Regions from separate parts of the Homo sapiens genome. Here all the other regions are linked to region 3. Evidence: fine-mapped expression QTL. A gene starts in region 3. Each other region holds a variant in brackets. All regions are shown on one strand. Distances are from middle to middle. Region 1 overlaps LINC02577 (long intergenic non-protein coding RNA 2577). Region 2 has its middle 4.6 kb from the start of LINC02577. Region 3 holds the start of CTB-30L5.1 (a long non-coding RNA gene).

Evidence for each region. PIP is the estimated chance that this variant, and not a neighbour inherited with it, causes the effect. A credible set is the group of variants that fine-mapping cannot tell apart.
Region 1: its variant is the best candidate, but not a certain one, in a credible set for the expression of CTB-30L5.1 in adrenal gland (GTEx, PIP 0.89).
Region 2: its variant is the best candidate, but not a certain one, in a credible set for the expression of CTB-30L5.1 in aorta (GTEx, PIP 0.57).

The regions. Positions count from the first base shown.
Region 1 is chr7:106,782,647-106,789,034 of GRCh38, reverse strand. The region is part of intron 1 of LINC02577 (long intergenic non-protein coding RNA 2577); the gene reads right to left. Among named protein-coding and RNA genes, the nearest start is that of LINC02577, 11 kb to the right of the region's middle. The variant C/A (reference allele first, on the strand shown) is at 2,943.
Region 2 is chr7:106,767,271-106,773,658 of GRCh38, reverse strand. No RefSeq gene overlaps it. Among named protein-coding and RNA genes, the nearest start is that of LINC02577, 4.6 kb to the left of the region's middle. The variant C/T (reference allele first, on the strand shown) is at 3,328.
Region 3 is chr7:106,596,220-106,602,607 of GRCh38, reverse strand. CTB-30L5.1 (a long non-coding RNA gene) reads left to right here and starts at 3,761. Exons shown (of 4, transcript NR_187788.1): 1 at 3,761-3,854. RefSeq lists an enhancer at 3,603-3,652.

The DNA.
Region 1 (6,388 bases), 190 kb before region 3:
TCTATATATACACACATATATATATGTGTATATATATATGTATATATGTGTGTGTGTGTGTGTGTGTGTGTATATATATATATATTTATATATATATATATGTTCACTCTGTTTCCCCCAGTGATAACATCCTGCCTAACTATAGCACAACACCAAAACCAGGAAATTGGCATTAGGCCAATCCACAGAGCTTATTCACATTTCACCTGTTTGATGTGTTCTTGCATGTGTGTGTATGTATAGTTCTGTGCAGCTTTTGTAATGTATAGGTTCATGTAACCACCACTATAATCAAAATATAGAACTGTTCCATCACTAAGGCTGTGTCGCTATCCTACATCCACTCCTACCCTGATGAACAATCAGTAATCTGTTCTCCATCTTTAGAATTTTTCATTTCAAGAATGTTATATAAATGAAATCATATAGTATATAACTTTTTAATATTGGCTCTTTTAGGCTAGGTGTGGTGGCTTATTCCTATAATCCTAGCACTTTGGGAGGCTGAGGTGGGAGGATCACCTGAGCCCAGGAGTTTGAGGCTGATCACGTCACTGCACTCCAGCCTGGGCACCAGAGCAAGACCCTTTCTCCAGAAAAAAAAAATAAAATAAAAACAGTTTGGCTCTTTTCACTCAGCATAATTCCCTTAAGAGCTATCTAAGTTGCTGCATTTATCAATAGTTTGTTCCTTTTTACTGCTGAAAAGTATTCCAGTGTATGGTGTATGGATAGACTACAGCGTGTTTAACCATTCACCTGCCGAAGAATATTTCGGTTGCTTTTGTTTATTACGAATAAAGACATCATGAACATTCATATACAGGTCTTTGGTGAACGTAAGTTTTCAAAGCTTTGAGATAAGTACTCGAGAGTGCAATTATTGGATTATATGGTACTTGTATATTTAGTTTTAGAACAATTTGGCAAATTAAAAAAGAGTGCCTCTGACTGCTAGCAAGAGGTGGGACTCCCTTGGATTGGGGTCTGTCTGATCATTACTCTGCCAAGGAACCAGCTATGGGACAATGGACAATTCGCCCAGCCTCTCTGTGCCTGCATTTTCTTTTCTGCCACTTAACAAAAATAGTGCCTTCCCCACAAACCCCACAGGCCGTTATGAATAATACATTTATGTAAAAGTTCTTTAAGCAAAACATAAACATATGACATTAGTATTTCATTGAGGACCAAATATACCCTTAAAAACTAGCATAATTAATTTCTCTGTCCGACTCCCTCACCTTACAAAATTCCTTAGATTTTCCCGTTCCCCTCTCCACCTTTTTGAGCTGCGTCTCAAAATGCAGTGTGGCTGGCTCCAACAGAGGTGCTCTTTTGTCTTGGGAGCTGCTTTTCTAGTCTAGATCATTAAGCTTTCTCTCCTCTCCTAAATCTGCACTCTAGGAAACTGATGTTGTTTATTCACCCTGTGCTCTTGTAACTTCTTAGGTGTCTTTACGTCTGAAAAATACATGAGCCCCAGACCAAGGACTACTGTCCAAACTACTATTTAGCTGAACCCACCCAAAAATACAAGCTTTAATTTGTCTTAAAGAATAGATAAATATTAGTTTAAGCTCCATAATGAAATATAAGTGTAGATTCACTTTACTCACAGTTCCACTGAAAATTGTGTGTGTACATATGTGTGAAATAGGTTGAAAGGGGGCTATTTTTTAATTACCATAATTTGTCTATATTTTTGCAGAGAATAGTAGGATATTCTTTATGGTTTGCTATTATGGTCATCATTCCCTTTAATTTTTAACTATGTGGTTATTCACTAAAGGGATTGGGTTCATGGACTTAGGTCAAAAATTGAGAATTAAAGAATTAATGGTCATTTATGATCATCATTACCTTTAATTTTTAACTGTGTGGTTAATCACTAAAGGGATTGGGTTCATGGGCTTAGGTCAAAAATTGAGAATTAAAGAATCCTTTGGGGGATATTTTAAGGAAAAAAAAGAACTAGTGACCACAACGTCTTTAAATTAAGTATGAAAACACAGTTAGGATTTCTAACAGTGAACTAAATAGAGACCCTGGAATAATTTCAAGTTTTCTTAATTTGAATGCTTATTTGCTATTCATACTTGATTCTCCCCACCTCTGTAACCTCATTAAGAAACAGAGTGATGTGTGTATCAGAAAAAGAGAGAAAAAATGTATTTTCATGATTTCAGGAGGCACTAGGAAGAGTGTCTTGATGAAAATACCTTTCAAAAGTCTGCCACATAATCCTGAAATCCACCATTAGAGACTTATTACTTTTTAAGCACTGGTTCTCTAGAAGGCAGAGATATTCAGCTGCTGCCAGTTGAGAACACAGAAACAAGGCCACGTAGGGTGAACTGCAGAGCACAGGCTCTCCAATCAAATGGAGCTAGGGTTGAATTTGGCTGTGGCATTTACTAGCCGTGGGATCCTGGGCAAATTACTTTTCTCTGAGTCCCAATTTATTCACCTTTAAAATGGGGTTAATAATGACTATCATATGAGAAGTACAATTTAAATGAGCACATGTTGTCTCTCCATATATATATATGTATATATACATGTGTATATATATATGTGTGTATATATATATATATATATATATATATATATATATATATGAGAAACTTAATATACTACCTGGTTTAAAATAGGTTCCCAGTACATTGCAATGATAATTATTAGCAATGGTAGAAATATTTAATTCAAATTGAGATTTGCATAGCTTTAGGGGTACATGAGGACATCCCAAGAGCTATGCAGACTCAGAATCAATTTCCAAATTCTTTCTCTCTCCCTCTCTCTCTCTCTCTCTCTCTATATATATATATTTCTATATTTGCTCAAAAGTGCCCCTGAATCAAGCTGCTTCTCCTTATCCACCTTTTCTTTTATAGCTCCTTTTCTTCTGCCCTACAAAAAAGTGACATATTTTTCATCCA[C/A]CTCAAATTATGCTGTGGTACCTTAATTGCCCTGGGTATACAAACCTCTGGGACACCAAGCTGAGGAAAGTCAAACTATGGGTATTTGAGAGAGAGAGAGACTCTCAAAGGAAATACTCTGTTGAAGGAAATACTATGGGTATTTTCCTTTAATCAAACCAGCATAAACCAAAGGTGCAGGGCATATTATCTTTCTCTGTCTTATGCTTATCTCTTTTAGGGGCAAAGCATACCTTAAGCAGGTATGCTCACCCATGTCGGGGTGTTTGGACTTCAGGAGTATCATGGAATTAGGCAGGAGAAGTGATGGCATTTTCCTCCTGTCTTCACTACTGGCAAAGAAGGCATTGTTCCTGAGGAAAGAGACTTGAGAATAAAGCAGGCTGGGCACAGTGGCTCACGCCTGTAATCCCAGCACTTTGGCAGGCCAAGGCGGGCAGATCACTTGAGGTCAGGAGCTCGAGATCAGCCTGGCCAACATGGCGAAACCCAGTCTCTACTAAAAATACAAAAATTAGCCGGGCATAGTGGTGGGACCCCATAATCCCAGCTACTCAGGAGGCTGAAGCAGGAGAATCGCTTGAACCCAGGAGGTGGAGGTTGCAGTGAGCCGAGATCACACCACTGTACTTCAACCTCGGTGACAGAGTAAGACTCCATCTCAAAAAAAAAAAAAAAAAAAAAAACAAAGAAAAAAACAAAGAGAACATCTCTTAGAAATATTGGCCGGGCGCGGTGGCTCACGCCTGTAATCCCAGCACTTTGGGAGGCCGAGACGGGCGGATCACGAGGTCAGGAGATCGAGACCATCCTGGCTAACACGGTGAAACCCCATCTCTACTAAAAATACAAAAAATTAGCTGGGTGTGGTGGCGAGTGCCTGTAGTCCCAGCTGCTCAGGAGGCTGAGGCAGGAGAATGGCGTGAACCTGGGAGACGGAGGTTGCAGTGAGTTGAGACCGCGCCACTGCACTCCAGCCTGGGTGACAGAGCGAGACTCCATCTCAAAAAAAAAAAAAAAAGAAAAAGAAAAAAGAAATATTGAAGATGGCAGTAAGTTATTCATCCAGGTGGCAAACTCATGGGAGGTCTCTGTCTATCTTGAAATATTCAAGATTTGTAAGAAGTGTACTGGGAAATGCCAGTGAGCTATGAACCACATTTTCTCTGCAATTTCACCATCTCAGTAATGAGAGCAAGCTCTGTGAATACTCTCATTTAGCTGCATTTTACTCTATGTCTCAGGAGTGTAATTTGCATAACTTCAAGGTGAAAAGACTACAGTTTCTTCCAACATATCAAGGCTACATTTTCTAACAAAAGAAACACATATTAGAGGTAAGTTAGTATTTTGTATTTTCTTAAATATTTACTCAGATTTATAGGAGAAACACTTTCATTAATTTTTGCTAAAAGTTAGCAAAATATGAAATCTATATTCATTTCTGATGAAGGTACAGGTCTCCTGCTCACTGTCACTCATGAACAACTTTCCCGTTCATGTATTAATTCCTGCCATGTAGTTATTAGGTATATAAGTCAGCTTGTGTTGCCATAACAAAATACCATGCACCAGGTGGTTTAAATAACAGAAATTTATTTTCTCATAACTCTGGAGGCTAGAAATCCAAGATTAGGGTGTCAGCATGGTCAAGTTCTGGTGTGGGCTCTCTTCCTGGCTGGCAGATGGCTGCCTTCTCCTTATATCCTCACATGGGGGGCAGGAGGAGAGAGAGAGAGAGTGAACCAGCGAGAGAGAGAGAGAGAGAAAGGGGGCACATGAACGAGAGCATCTGGCATCTTGTCCTCTTCTTTAAAGGACACCAGTCCTAGTGAAGTAGGACCCCAGCCTGTGACCTCATTTAACCTTTATCACCTCTTCACAGGCACTATTTCCAAATATAGTCACATTAAGGGTTAAGCCTTCAAAATATAAATTTTGGGGGAATGAAATTCAGTCCACAGAATTAGCATTAAGTAATTTAACAGGAATATATTGCAGATTATACTCTAACTAATGTGCTTAGAGGTCCTTAATGTGCTTTCCATAATCTTGTACTATACTTATTGGTGACTAAGTTCTTTCTCTTGCTGTCAACTTACATAAAGTATTTAAACTATACTGTCAAAAGCAGAAATCTATTGGTTCAAAAGCAAAAAAAATTTTTCCAAAATGTAAATCTAATATGCAATGACCTGAACTTTAGAAAACTGGCTTGATTGAATTAGGATTAATTTCTCCCTTTCAGATGTTAATATATTGATTTCAGTTCTGCTAAGTGTATTGTCTTCAGTCATATTTGGGAAGAAGTTATTAGTATATACATGAATATCCCCAAGTGTCTGTCCTTCTGTCATTTCTTTACTCTGCATTTTGAGACATTCTTAAAAAATGAAATTTGGCATTGTATATAGGTCTCTGTTCACAGTCAAGGAGAAAAGTCCCCAAATGCACAATTTACAATTTTCTGTTTTTGTTTCTAACTCCAGTTTCATCTTTTTTAGGTCCATAAGCAAGACGCCTGTAAGTAAAAGGGTGATGGTATAATCAACAGCCATGTGATAAGTCTTGGCCAAGCTTTTTTGGGTCATACTTCCTAGAAACTTAGAAAGTGAGCTCTAATAATTAGGTAACACATTTCTTCTTCTTCTTCTTCTTCTTCTTTTTTTTGTAAATTAGGTAGTTTCCAATTCTTTGCTTTCAATAAAATTAAAGGAGGACCTACCCAAGTTGTCAACAGATAGGCCAATAGTTTTTGATAATAGATCACTATGTACTTTTTGACTTATAATCAAGAAGGCATTCAAATAACAGAGTGACATTTTTATCAGAAAATGCCTAACATTCTCATTACTTATTTAATTGAACAAGTTTTCTCAGGGCTTACGTCTAAAAAAATAAAAAATAAGAGTAGAATTGACGCTGACTCTGTCTCATTTTAACAGTTAGGAACAGCCACAGATACCCGAACTAATTTAAAAAGATCCATTCATTTAGTTTAATTTTCCAATAACACATAACTTGCTATGTTTTATAATTATTTATCAAAATATGCTATATATTTATGTTGCTTTGGTCAGTTGTATACTAAAAATCATTATAAAAATAATTCAATCCAGAAAACTTCAAAATTTTAAAAAGGAATAATACAAATTTTTCGGTTGTTAAAAAAGAGGTTGTTGGTGAATTTTTAAGACTGAGGGTGGGAGAGTAAGTGTCAAATTGCTATGGTGTTTAGAGTTCATTGGATACAAAGTGTGATATATTTTATTTAAAAATCAATATTTACAATATGCTAATAAGTACATATTTTGAAGTTATTCAAATTTATGATGAAAAATCTTAGGTGTCTGCTTGAAAATGTGCAAGGGGATACATAGTTTTTCAAAGTTCCTTTAGGAAGTACGAGAGGAATTAGTTCAAAGACCACTTATTTAGCTGATCAA
Region 2 (6,388 bases), 170 kb before region 3:
AAAATCAATAGAATTATAAACTAAATCATGCCTTGAGCTGTGAAAGACGAAATGACCATCACAAGTAAACTGATAGGCATGAGTTCTCAATAGGCAATGACTTACTTATGTTAAAAGATGGAAGAAACATAGATCAGTGTAGTTCAAGCCCTTCACAAATGTTAGAAACCAAGAAATTGAGGTGCACAGTGGTTGCTTGACTTGCCCAAGGTCCCATGACTTGTCAGTGGCAGAGCCAGGCTGGAATTTGACCCTGCATTCCAGGAATGAGCACCTTTATTATACCATGCCAGGCCAGCACCAAAATTCCAGGACTGCTTTTACAAGTGTTACATTTAACCAGGGTTCTTAATTACTAGCTGGTAAGGAATTTGCATAGAACCATATGGATGTAGATCAAAATCATGTGATTAAGTGTTTCACAAGTGGTAAATTACATATATGTGTATATATATATGAATGAGAGAATTAAAATTACTTTAAAAATATATTTAATTTTAAAAAAAGCCTTGGGATCATCTATTGAGATGAAAACAGTAATGTCATGGAAAGATTACCAGATGTCTACAGGAACTGACCTCCCATCTTGCCCTGCCATTCATTGGCTGTGGAATTGCTTCATTTTCCAGTCAACAAAACGGGGATGTTGATGACTGCTGTACCTTCAATAAACACTCTGAGGATAAATAAAATAGAATAAGTGGAGTGTTCCGAGGGTTTCTTACCTTCCTAAAAGAATTAAAATAGGAGACTTAGGCTTTAGACCACAACTTGTTTAACTTATGTTGCTGATGACTACAAGTTTCCTTGCAGTTATGAGTCAGTGATTCTCAGGAATTCCTTTTTGCACCACTTAACCTTTAAACTGTTTTCTTTATTGAACCTTAGATTTAGAAGACTGAGAAATCACCTAGAGATTTCTCCTCTCAGTTCAACTACCCACTCATAGAAATGCTGATACAGAACTTATTCCTGTGCAAGGTAGTTTATTCCGTGGTTGGAAAGCCACAATATAGAAAAATGTTCATGTTATTGAACAAAAATTTATCTCAGTGTAATTTTTTTGTCATTCATTTTTATTTTATTTTTCTATAGGTTATTGGGGTACAGGTGGTATTTGGTTACATGAGTTAAGTTCTTCAGTGGTGATTTGTGAGATTTTGGTGTGCCCATCACCTGAGCACTATATACTGCACCCTATTTGTAGTCTTTTATCCCTCACCAGGCTCCCACCCTTCCCTCCAAGTCCCAAAAGTCCATTGTATCATTCTTATGTCTTTGTGTCCTCATAGCTTAGCTCCCGCATATAAGTGAGAACATACCATGTTTGGTTTTCCATTCGTGAGTTAATTCACTTAGAATAATAGTTTCCAATCTCATCCAGGTCGCTGTGAATGTCATTAATTCATTCCTTTTTATGGCTGAGTAGTGTTCCATCATATATATATAATATATATATTATATATATTATATGATATATATATAATATATGTATTATATATATTATATGATATATATAATATATGTATTATATATATTATATGATATATATATAATATATGTATTATATATATTATATGATATATATATAATATATGTATTATATATATCATATGATATATATATAATATATGTATTATATATATCATATGATATATATAATATATGTATATATATATCATATGATATATATATTATATATATTATATGATATATATATTCCGTCATGTATATATGATATATGTATCATGGAACCAACCCAAATGCCAATCAATCAATTAGTGGATAAAGAAACTGCGAGATATATATATATATATATATATATATATATATATATATATATATATATATTCCATCATATATATGTGATATATATCATGTATATAATTCCATTATGTATATATGATATATATATATATATATTCCATCATATATATATCATATATATATGGTTGAACTACACTGGGCTTTAACTACACTGATCTATGTTTCTTCCATCTTTTAACATAAATAAGTCATTGCCTATATTCCATCATATATATATGATATATATATATCACAGTGTAATTTTTAACTGTAATCTTAGTTTTTTTTGTTTTGAGTTACATAGATTTTATCAATTCTTAAATTATTTGAATTCAACTATCAAGTTTCTCCTAAATTTTCAATGTTGTAGTAAGAAAGAAGATAGCATTATTAAGTGGCTACTGTGCAATATTAACACTTTTATCTGGGTGTTTTCAATTAAAACTCAAAATAAGTTAATGCCAAGTAACCTCCATTCCTGCATTGATGAGACTAGTAAAGTTGCTAAAACCATAAGCCCTGAATTTAGGCACACCTGGATTTAAGTCTTGGCCACTTACTAACTATAAATTGCAGAAATTACTTAGCCCCTCAGGCTTAGCTTCCTCGCTGATAAATTTTAAAAGCAATAATTCTAATGATAATGTGGTGGTTATGAGGTTAAAAAATATAATGCCTGGGCAACATGATGAAGCCCCATCTTTATGAAATATATATAAATTAGCCAAACATGGTGACGTGCCTGTAGTCTTAGCTATCGGGAGGCTGAGGTGGGAGGACTGCTTGAGCCTGGGACGGGGAGGTTGCAGTGAGCTAAGATTGTGCCATTGCACTCCAGCCTGGGCAACAGAGCAAGATCCAGTCTCAAAACATATGTATATATGGCATGTGACTATATAATGCATAGTAACTGTTCAATAAATGTAAGCTATTGGTATTATTAGTCTCTCTGTCTCTCTCTTTTTTTTTGGCCTTATGTTTATCCCAAATAATTTGTATTTTCTTTGTTTTGGGCCTGATTTCTATATGAAGAAATAGTTTTGAATTGTCTCCTCGTGTATTAGCTCTGTCTCCCTAATTTTTAAATTGAAATATTCATAAACATGCATTCTGTGGTTTTCATGTTTTTGACAAAAATATTGAACAGAAATGAGCAAATCATAAATTCTTGGAGTTTGCCTTTTAAGGTGGAAGTCAAGTCTTTGGCCAATATTCTTTGGGTGACATTGAATGCCTAACTATGCAGCAAACCACCAGTCATCTTGCTGTTACCTGGGCCCTCATTCCTCCATCTTAACAACAAAAGGTGTGCATCACGATATTTGGCAAATGCTATGCTAAAACCAAGGCATACCATGTGCATGCCTTCCTCCTGACACACAGGCAACCAAATCTAAGAAAAGAAGTGAGACTGGTTGGCATGACTTGTTCTTAGTGAATTCACACTGGTTAGTATTTGTTTACTGTATCTTGCCTACAAATCATCCATTTTAGAATTTTGTTTGGCGTCTGCATGAGGCT[C/T]ATCAGTTTACATACAGATCTCATTCTTTCACTATTTTTAGAAGTAGAAACATTTTCCAGCCATTAGTCACCTTTTCCATTCTCCTTGATTCTCAGGAGCAGTTCTCTGATCTCATCTGCAAACTCTTTTGATACTTTGGGATAGAATTTGTATTAACAGAAGTTTTGAAGTCATTCAGAGTAAGTGAAGATTTCTCTTACTATCTCTTTTTCTATTGTAGGTTTTAATTCTCTCTTCATAATGTTTGCTTCAAAATTGATGTTCATCTCTCTTAGAATATGGAAGGAAGCAGAAAATTGAATGGTTCTTTGATTATGTTATCATTTGTTAAGGTTATATTGTAATTTTTTTTTTTTTTTTTGAGACAAGGTCTTGCTCTGTGGCCCAGGCTGGAGTGCAGTGGAGTGAACATGGCTAGTGAGGGTTTACTTTCTGGGCTCAAGTGATCCTCCCACCTCAGCCCCGAGTAGCTGGGAACACAGGCGTGTGCTACCACACCTGGCTAATTTTTTACAAAGTTTTGTAGAGATGGAGTCTCACTTTGTTGCCCAGGCTGGTGGGCAAGAGGTCCTCCTGGGCTCAAGTGATCCTCCTGCCTTGGCCTCCCAAAGCATTAGGATTACAGGTGTCAGCCACCATGCTTGGCCTAAGGTGATATTGTCTGAGATACAGCATAGGTTTTTCTTCCCAGATCTTTTCTTGGCTACGGAGATTAAAAAGAAAAACAGCTTTCTTGCTGTCTTTAGTATTTATCTCCGCCCCTACTTTATTTTAAGACTTTATTCTCATAATACTCTAAACAAATTTTCCCTTTCTTTTATCGCATGCTTGGGTCTGTCCACCCCATCCGTCCTCTGAGCCATAGGAACCTCGAGTCTTACTACTCCAGATCTAACCCTCCTTTTACCTCCTCTCTGAGAACTGTGTGCTCCTAGACTATTATTCTATTCTTGCTGTTTATGTTTTCAGCACAAGCTTGTTTATGGTCAATTATCTGAGATTATTTCTATTATATTTTCTTTCCAGACAGCATATCTTTCCTCCTAAACAGGATCATTTTTGTAATGCTCAAGTAATCCTGTTTTCAGAGTCTACATTCCTCTTCTAAACATATTCCCTTGGGCACTATTATTTTCCTTACTTTTTATGAAGCCCCCTTTCTGAAGGTCTGACCATTACCTTTTTCACTATTATAAACATCAAGGCCATTTTATTCCAAGGTTTGCTTGTTTCTGCATTTGACACCTCCTTCTTTCTTGTTGGAATCCAGGACAAAAATTTCCTAAATGTATTCCTTTACCTGCTGAGGGAAAATTGTCAGTAACCCAAACCAAGAACAAACTCTCCGTCTGCTGTGCGCTGGGTTGAATGTGTGCCTTTCCCCAGCTTATGTTCACCTGGAGCCTGTGAATATGACCTTATTTGAAAATACAGTCTTTGCAGATGTAATCAAGTTAAGACGAGGTCATACTGGATTAGAATGGGCCCTAAATTCAATATAACTGGATCCTTATAAAAAGAGGAGCATTGGGACACAGGGACACAGACAGGGAGAAGATCGTAGGTGGAGACTGCAGTGATGCATCTAGAAGCCAGGGAGCACCAAGGGTGGCAAGCAACTGCTAGAGGCTAGGAAGAGGCAAGGAAGGTTCCCTAGAGGCGTCAGAGGAAAACATCAACCTGCCAGCACCTTAGTTGCAGACTACTAGCTGCCAACACTGAGATAATAATTTTTTGTTGTTTTAAGCCACCTAGTTTGTGGTGATTTGTTATGGCAGCATCAGGTAACCAATACATGTGGTTAATAGCAGGATACCACTAACTGGTTCCAGGTGGCCAATTCTGTAGCAGTTTTGCTACATGTATCAGAAGATAGCATGGCTATGTGGCAAGAATATAGACTTTAGGCTTAAAGACCCATGCTCGAGTCTTAGACCTACCACCGATGAGTTGGGCGATCTGCAGCTGCTAAAAGAAAAATTTTGGACAAACTAAATTTAACAGAGTTTAATTGAGCAAAGAATGTTTCATGAACTGGGCAATCCCCAAACCAGAATAGATTCAGACAGACTCACGTGAAAAGGATTTATGAACAGAAAAATGAAAGTGAAACAGAAGTGAGGAATAGGAACAGCTGGATTGTTACAGCTTGATGTTTGTCTTATTTGAACGTGGTTTAAACAGTTGGCCATCTGCAATTGGCTGAAGCTCAGTGATGGGTACAAGAGCAAGTTACAGTCTGTTGATACATCCAGTTAGGTTACAGTTCACTATGTGCAGAGAAACCTTTAGCCTCAACTTAAAAATATGTAAGGAGGCAGCTTTAGGCTAAACTTAATTTAACAGGGCATGGTCAATTAATCACTTATAACTTCCATAAAATAATGATAATGTATTATTCATCTGATAAGTCTTCTCTGAGATTGAAGAAAATGTGAGAAAGCACATTTTAAGTTATAAAGCCCCAACAAAGGCTATTGTATTGAGCACCCTTGACATAAGTAACTCCATCTTAAAAAAAAGACTCCATCTTACATTTCACGGGACATTTTGCCAACAGGGATACGATGTTTGCTTAATAAATTTGTAATAAATAAAGACTGCATCCAACCAGATAAGGGCATAAACAAGCACACACTTCCACTATCAGTCCTCTGGTGGTCGTAAAAAGAGCAGGGCTTCAGCAGCTCAAAGCGGCCATCTTAACTGACATGCTCTTACTGTCACTAGTGATCAACACCTGGCATCTGCTGCTGAAGGCTCTGCCCACATCAAAGACTTTTCCTTTCAAGACCTTTCCTGGACCGCCGAGCACAGACCAGGAGATTCTTTCTGTCTTCATCGTCACTTTCCTCGGACTACTTCATTAATCCTTTTTCCTATTCCCTTTCTCTTGATGTTAAATATTACTTTGGTGTGGAATGTTTAATCTTAACATTTATATGTTGATGAAATATACTACTATATATGGTTTGCAATGTTGACTGACTTGTGGAGTGGCTTGAGCTGTGTGCTCTGACTACGGAGTGAACGAGAAGTACTAAGGAGAGAGTTGCCTTC
Region 3 (6,388 bases):
ATCTTGATACAGTAAGTTCAATATGCAGCTTTAAAGTTATTTAACTTTTCTGATTCCTACAACCTTAACTTCCAGGTCCCTTTAGCAACCTACTTCCATGGCTGCACTAAAACCTAGGCTCTGACATCACCCCAAAAAAGAGGTCCAACTCAGGAATCTCAAAGTAAACACCCTAGTCTCTCAAAGGAGCCACACCTGACCACTACCTTACCCCACAATTTCTTTTCTTCAGCATGATGTAGACTTATAGTCTTTCATTTCCTCACTCTCATTTCTCTCAGTCTTGTCTCTTGTGGCTCCACCTCTCTTCCTAATCCAATCTATACCCATTTGTCACTCTGTGTCAGAGCTTCTTTGTCCTCTGCTGAATCCGCCTTGTGGATCTTGATGAGTTCCACTGTCAACCCCCTCCTTGTTCACACTCAGCCCACTGAACTGCTAGAGGGAATCATACAGACACTGGGGTCACTGCCATTATAATTTTATTATTGCCAATGTCAACCAGACCTTTTGGGCTCCTCCCCTTTTCACTCTCCACAGCAGCAATTCCAAATGCCCATCACTGTCCTCAACCCACCTTTCTCTTGGGGAATGACTCTTACTTCCTAGATGAGACTTAGACTGCAGATACCTTCAAACTCTCACTTAGCCCTTAATAACTACAACTTTTGACACCGTCCAATGGTTCTACCTAAGTCTAAGAAAAAGAAGTGTTTCTTCTCCCACTCAAAACTTATTCATTCATTCAACAATCACTGAGTGCCTATCACATCCTAATAAACACTGTGCTATATGCTGGGGAAACTAGAGAGGAAGACGTAGATCCTACCCATAAGGAGCTTAACATCATGTAGGGGAAACTGATCTGTAAAGGAAAAATAATTTGACGTGCATTAAGGTATAATGATAGAAATAAACACAGAACATTACCAGACTGTGGGAGGAAAAGCCACCTAACTCAGCCTTCATTGGAAGAAGACAAAATGTCATGAGGGACTTTCTGGATGGAAGGTTGCTTGAGCTAATTCTTAAAGAGGGAGTAGGCATTAATTAGGCAAAATTGTGGTAAGAAGGAGACGGGAGACTTGAGGATTGAAGAGCAGAGAAAAGAGAGATTGAGTATAGGAAGAGATTATAAGTGAAATCATGAAGTTGGAACTCACAAGTAACCTCAAGCTCCACACATTCTCCCCAGGCTTTTTCGTCCTTTATTCTTTATCCAAGTATATGGCACCCCTACCAATCTGGTCACTAGAAATATAGATTTCTTCAATTCCTCCTGTTTCCTCACCTCTGTCCTTCAACTAATAACTAACTTCTGCTGATTCTACTGCATCAACATTTCTTGTGTGCCTATCCTTTCTCCACCTTCACTCAGGATTAGTGCCACCGTCTCCTAATTGGCCTCACTTCCATACTCCTAGTAATCTCTCTAACATGCACAACTGATTACATCACTGCCCAGCCAAATACTGGCTGTTCCAGGATGATAGAAAAGACTTTTATCATACAGCCACTGCCCCCACCTCTGCAGCCTTATTATTCCCTTGCTATTTGTCATGCCTCAAGAACTATCAGCAATTTCCCCAGTGTGCTCTATTATTTCTTGCCTATGTGTCTTCCCCTCAAAAGGCACAAGAACATTTTGATGCAACATCTTAATATGCTCATATTTTAATGCAGTCTAAAGTAGTAATCAAACATTTAGCTAGTCTTTATTTTTCTTTCCTGAATAATGACTGTAATAGACATTCTTAACCCATTCTTCTACCCTTCCCTTTTGATTCTCTCCAGGATGATGATGACACCAATGACCTTCAGCTGATTGGCTCCCCGTTTTAATCTGCCATCAGTAGTCTTAAATTATCTTAAGTGTCCTGCTTCAAGTTACATTGTTTCTGCTACTTCAAATGCCCTCTATTTTGCTTGTCTTCAGAGGGCACCCCATTCTCCTTTTATTACCATTGCCACCACATTCCTCTCTCACCTCTCAGGAAATCCTTCCAGTTCTGCATTTTAGTCCCTGATTACAATCGACCACACCGTCTCTGTGCCCTGTCTCCAATTTCTATATTCACTCCTGTTGACACCTCTTACATTTTTATGTCCCTCCATAGGAAATAATCTCTCTGAGGACAGGGATCATTCATTTTCCTGGTTTCTAGCACTTCCTACAGCTTTGGAACAGAACATGTACTCCCTTAATTGACACCAATGCATAGGGAGAGCACAGTAAGGACCACAGTAGATCCAGGGGATGAGGTACTGCCCTTCATTAGAAGCGAGGGCCCTTGGTGTGCCCCCGTATGGGAGGAGGGTTTACGAGAGGGCAGACAGTGGTGGGGAGAGAAAATTGGAATCCGATTTATAGTAATGGAATCTCAAAGGAATGCTACTATCTTATTCGTATGCTTCCCTATTATATGTATCCTAAGGAAAATTAATATTTTTTTCTCTAAATAGTTTTTTAAGGTAATATATATGTAGTAAAAATTCATATAGTATAAAAGGATATTCAATGAAAGTAAAGCTCTTTCCTACCCTATTCTCCATTATTCTTTCCCAGAGGTGACCACCAGTCTCAGTTTCTAGTCTTTTCCTTAAAAACCTTTAAGTATAGAAATGCATATTACATATACATTTATAACACACCATGCAAATATATCTAAATCCAAACCTAACTGTACATCTATATCTATATTTTAATATACAGTTGGTAGCATCCTATCATCAAGAGCTCTCTATTTTAGCTCATAAAGACATTATTATTATTTTAGTGCAGTAGGAACACATAACTTGAGGTCTACCTTCTTAGCAAATTTTTAAGTGTACATGATAGTGCACCATTATTTATTAAACTGCTACATTATATTACTACTATAACTGCATGATATTTAATCAGTTCCCTATTGATAAATATTTAATTTGTTTTGGTCTATTACTATTTCAAGCACTGCTGTAATGAAAGTCCTTGCACGTATGTGTATGAATCAGGGTCCAGCAGAAGCAGATGGCACATCCCAAGCTTACCTGACGAGTTTAGTCATGGAGGTACTATTTACACAGGTGCTGGCAGGATGAATAGAACCAGCAATAAATGGCTAAACATTCAGGAACTCCCAACAGTGACAAGCCTTCACCACCCCAGGCATGAAGGGATAAGGGGAGGGAGCAGTGTTACTAGAAGCCAGTGAGACCATGGCTGTGGGAGAGAGGCCAGCCAAACGGAGCTACAGCCACATGGTGAGGAATGGAGCCAGTAGCCAAACTGCAGCCATCAGAGTAGGAGCAAGAGGAATAAATACCCTGACTGCTATCTCCTTTTGCTCTCTGGTTTTCTGCTGGTTCTTCCAGCTGCTGAATAGAAGTGGAAGTCAGAGGTTGGGGAAGCCCAGGTGATGCAGTCCATGGAGGTCAGTCTGCAAGGTACAGGGTAGGCAGGGAGAGGAAGGATAAATGGGGAATAATCAGTGTAATATGTTGTTACACAAATGTGCCATTAATCTAGTAGAAATTTTCCTAGAAGTTGAATTGTGGTGTCAGCAGGAAGGAAAGAGCTGGCCACATGTCCCTCAATCTCCCTTCTCCTCCTCTTCCATGGTAATACAATGCAAAGCTGTGCAAATGGCGGCCCAGAATTAAGACTACATTTCCCAGCCTCCTTTGCAGCTAGAGCAGTGGAACGGGAAGTGTCGCGTGACAGCTTCTGAAAAACTTCTCTGAGAGACAGATGACAAGTGCCTTCTGTCCTCTATTCTTTATTCGTTTTTGTACTTCACATGCTGCCTAGGGCCACACCCTTTTGGTGGTGAGTGGGGAGCTGGAAGGAGCCAGGTTCTTGAGGACTTTATAGGGTAAGAGCTGCCCTGCCAGTTCTAAGCTATATACCTCCAGATTTTATTTATTTGGGAGAGAAATTAACTTTTACCTCGTTTAAGCAACAGTTATTTTCTTTTCTATGTCAAGTACCTAAATCTAATCCTAATGAATATAATGGGTATAAAATTTTTGAATTTTTATGGGTGTTGTCAAGCTTGGTTTATTTAATTTAAAAATATCTAATTGACAGATAAAAAGTATATATATATTCAAGGTGTACAACATGTTGATGTGATACACATATATGTACACTGGATACTGATTACTACGATTACTACAGTCAAATTAATTAACACATCTATTACAACCCGTAGTTAACATGTGTGCGTGTGTGTGTGGTGGTGTGGTGTTTTAAGTTGAATTTTCCAGACTTTCTGGGTTTGAATCTCAGCTTCTCCATTTACTAGACATGTGATCTTGAACAAGTTTCTTAATCATTTTGTGCCTTAGTGTTCTCATAGTGATAGTGATAGAAACTACCTCATTTGGTTGTTATGAGGAGTAAATGAGTTAGAATATCTGAAACACATAGAACGTCTATCTGACATAGCTGATACTCAAAAAAAGTAAGCTATTTATATTATTATTACTAGTATCATTTTTAATTGTCCTCCAAAGAAGATGTACCAATTTGTCTATTCACTGTCTGGAAGTGTCTCTTTCTCTCCTTTCATCAATACTGTGCATTAGCAAAGATTTTTGTCCAGTAAATGAATAGTGATATTTCATTTTATTTTAAATTACCATCTAAAATTTTAAGGTTGAATATCTTTTTATATTTTTATGCCATTTATATTTATTTTCTGGTGAATTTTCTGTTTGTGTGCTCTGTTCATGATTTTTTTTTGAAATAACTCTCGAATGTATAATGAAAATTAGCCTTTTGCATGCTATGGGTGGGGCAAATATTTTCCCAAGTTTTTATTTGTCTTTGACATTATTTTTTCCATACATAAATTTTAACATAGTAAAAATGATCCTTCTTTTTCATTATAACATCTGAGCTTAATGAGAAAGGTCTTTCTCACTCTGGAGTATAAAAATAATTCCCCATGTTTTTTTCTGGAAGTTTATAGATTGGTTTATATCAAAATATTTTTCCATTTGGAATTTAATTTGGAGTAGACAGTGAAGAACGAGTTGAAGTAATTCTTCAGAAAGCTTGGTTGGAGGGTTGACAAAAATGAGCTATCTGACATATAAATCCTGCAGAAGTTATAGCTTACTGATCCGCACAATAGGTATATTTTAAACAAGTATGCCAGTACGCCCTGGCCATCGGGCATGCAGAAGTTTGCTGAGTTTGCCTCTTCAGCTTTCTCTTCTTTGTGGGAAACACATGGGTTGTTTGTGATCATATCTTGTGTTTCTAGAGTAAGGTCTTGCCAGGTCTAGCATAATTACTTAACCAGTTTGCAAAACTGCCTTTCACACATCATATCACCTGGTTCTCACGTCCAGGTAGTACACAATTTCTTCTCCTGCCAGCAGGGCCACCTTGCTATTCGTTCACAGGATAAATAATAATGCCACAGTATGTCATACCTGTGCTAACAATGACCCATCTGTGGACATGACAGTCAGGGACTACCTATGCTTCACAGCCAAGGAGGGATGGAGCCCAGCAAGCTGCACCAGGACCTGCCACTGGCCTTCATCTTTGTCTTTTTTCCAGGTAGTTTATGAGAACACAAGCTCTAGAGTAAAACCATTTGGCTTTGTACTTCCACTCTGCCGCTTTTGAACTATTGGTCCAAGCGCCAAGTTCACTTCGCCTTTTTGTGCTTTAGTTTCTCATCTGTAAAGTGGGGATTATAACATTGTGTGGGAATTAAATAAATAAATATATGTAAAGTGCTTAAAAATTGCTTGGCAACAAGTACTTAGTAAATATTAAAAGGGCTTTTCCCCAATCCAGAATATAAAATAATTCCTTTATTTTTTTCCTAGGACTTTACAGATTCATTTATATTAAAAAGTGCATAATATTTATAATAAATGTAACTATAATAAATGTATAATATTATAATAATAAAACATTGGTAAGAAAAAAGTGTTATAACTTTATGAATAGAATCACTATCATTTGAAGAATGCATTTGCTTCTAAATGTCACCTTTGTCATAACTGAATTTGCATATGTGTTTGAGTCTAGTTCTGGATTCTCTATCAATTCATTCATCTAGCTTAATCACAAATGCTTTATAATATGTTTTATTATCTAATAGGGCTTGCCTAATTCATTATGCTTCCTTTGTAGATTTTTTTTCTGGCTAAGCTTGAATTTTGATATTTATACAAAAGTCTTAGAACCAGCTGCTCTTATATTTAAAAAATCAATTAATATTTTATTGGGGTTGCAACAAATTTACATATTCATTTAGAAAGAATTGACAGTCTTACCATATTAGCTTTTCCTATTTCAATTAAAAATGCTCTTCATTTGTATTCAAGCTGATTTTGTTTTAAAATGTCTCTCGGAAAGTTTTTTGAAAGTCTTTTTTTTGTG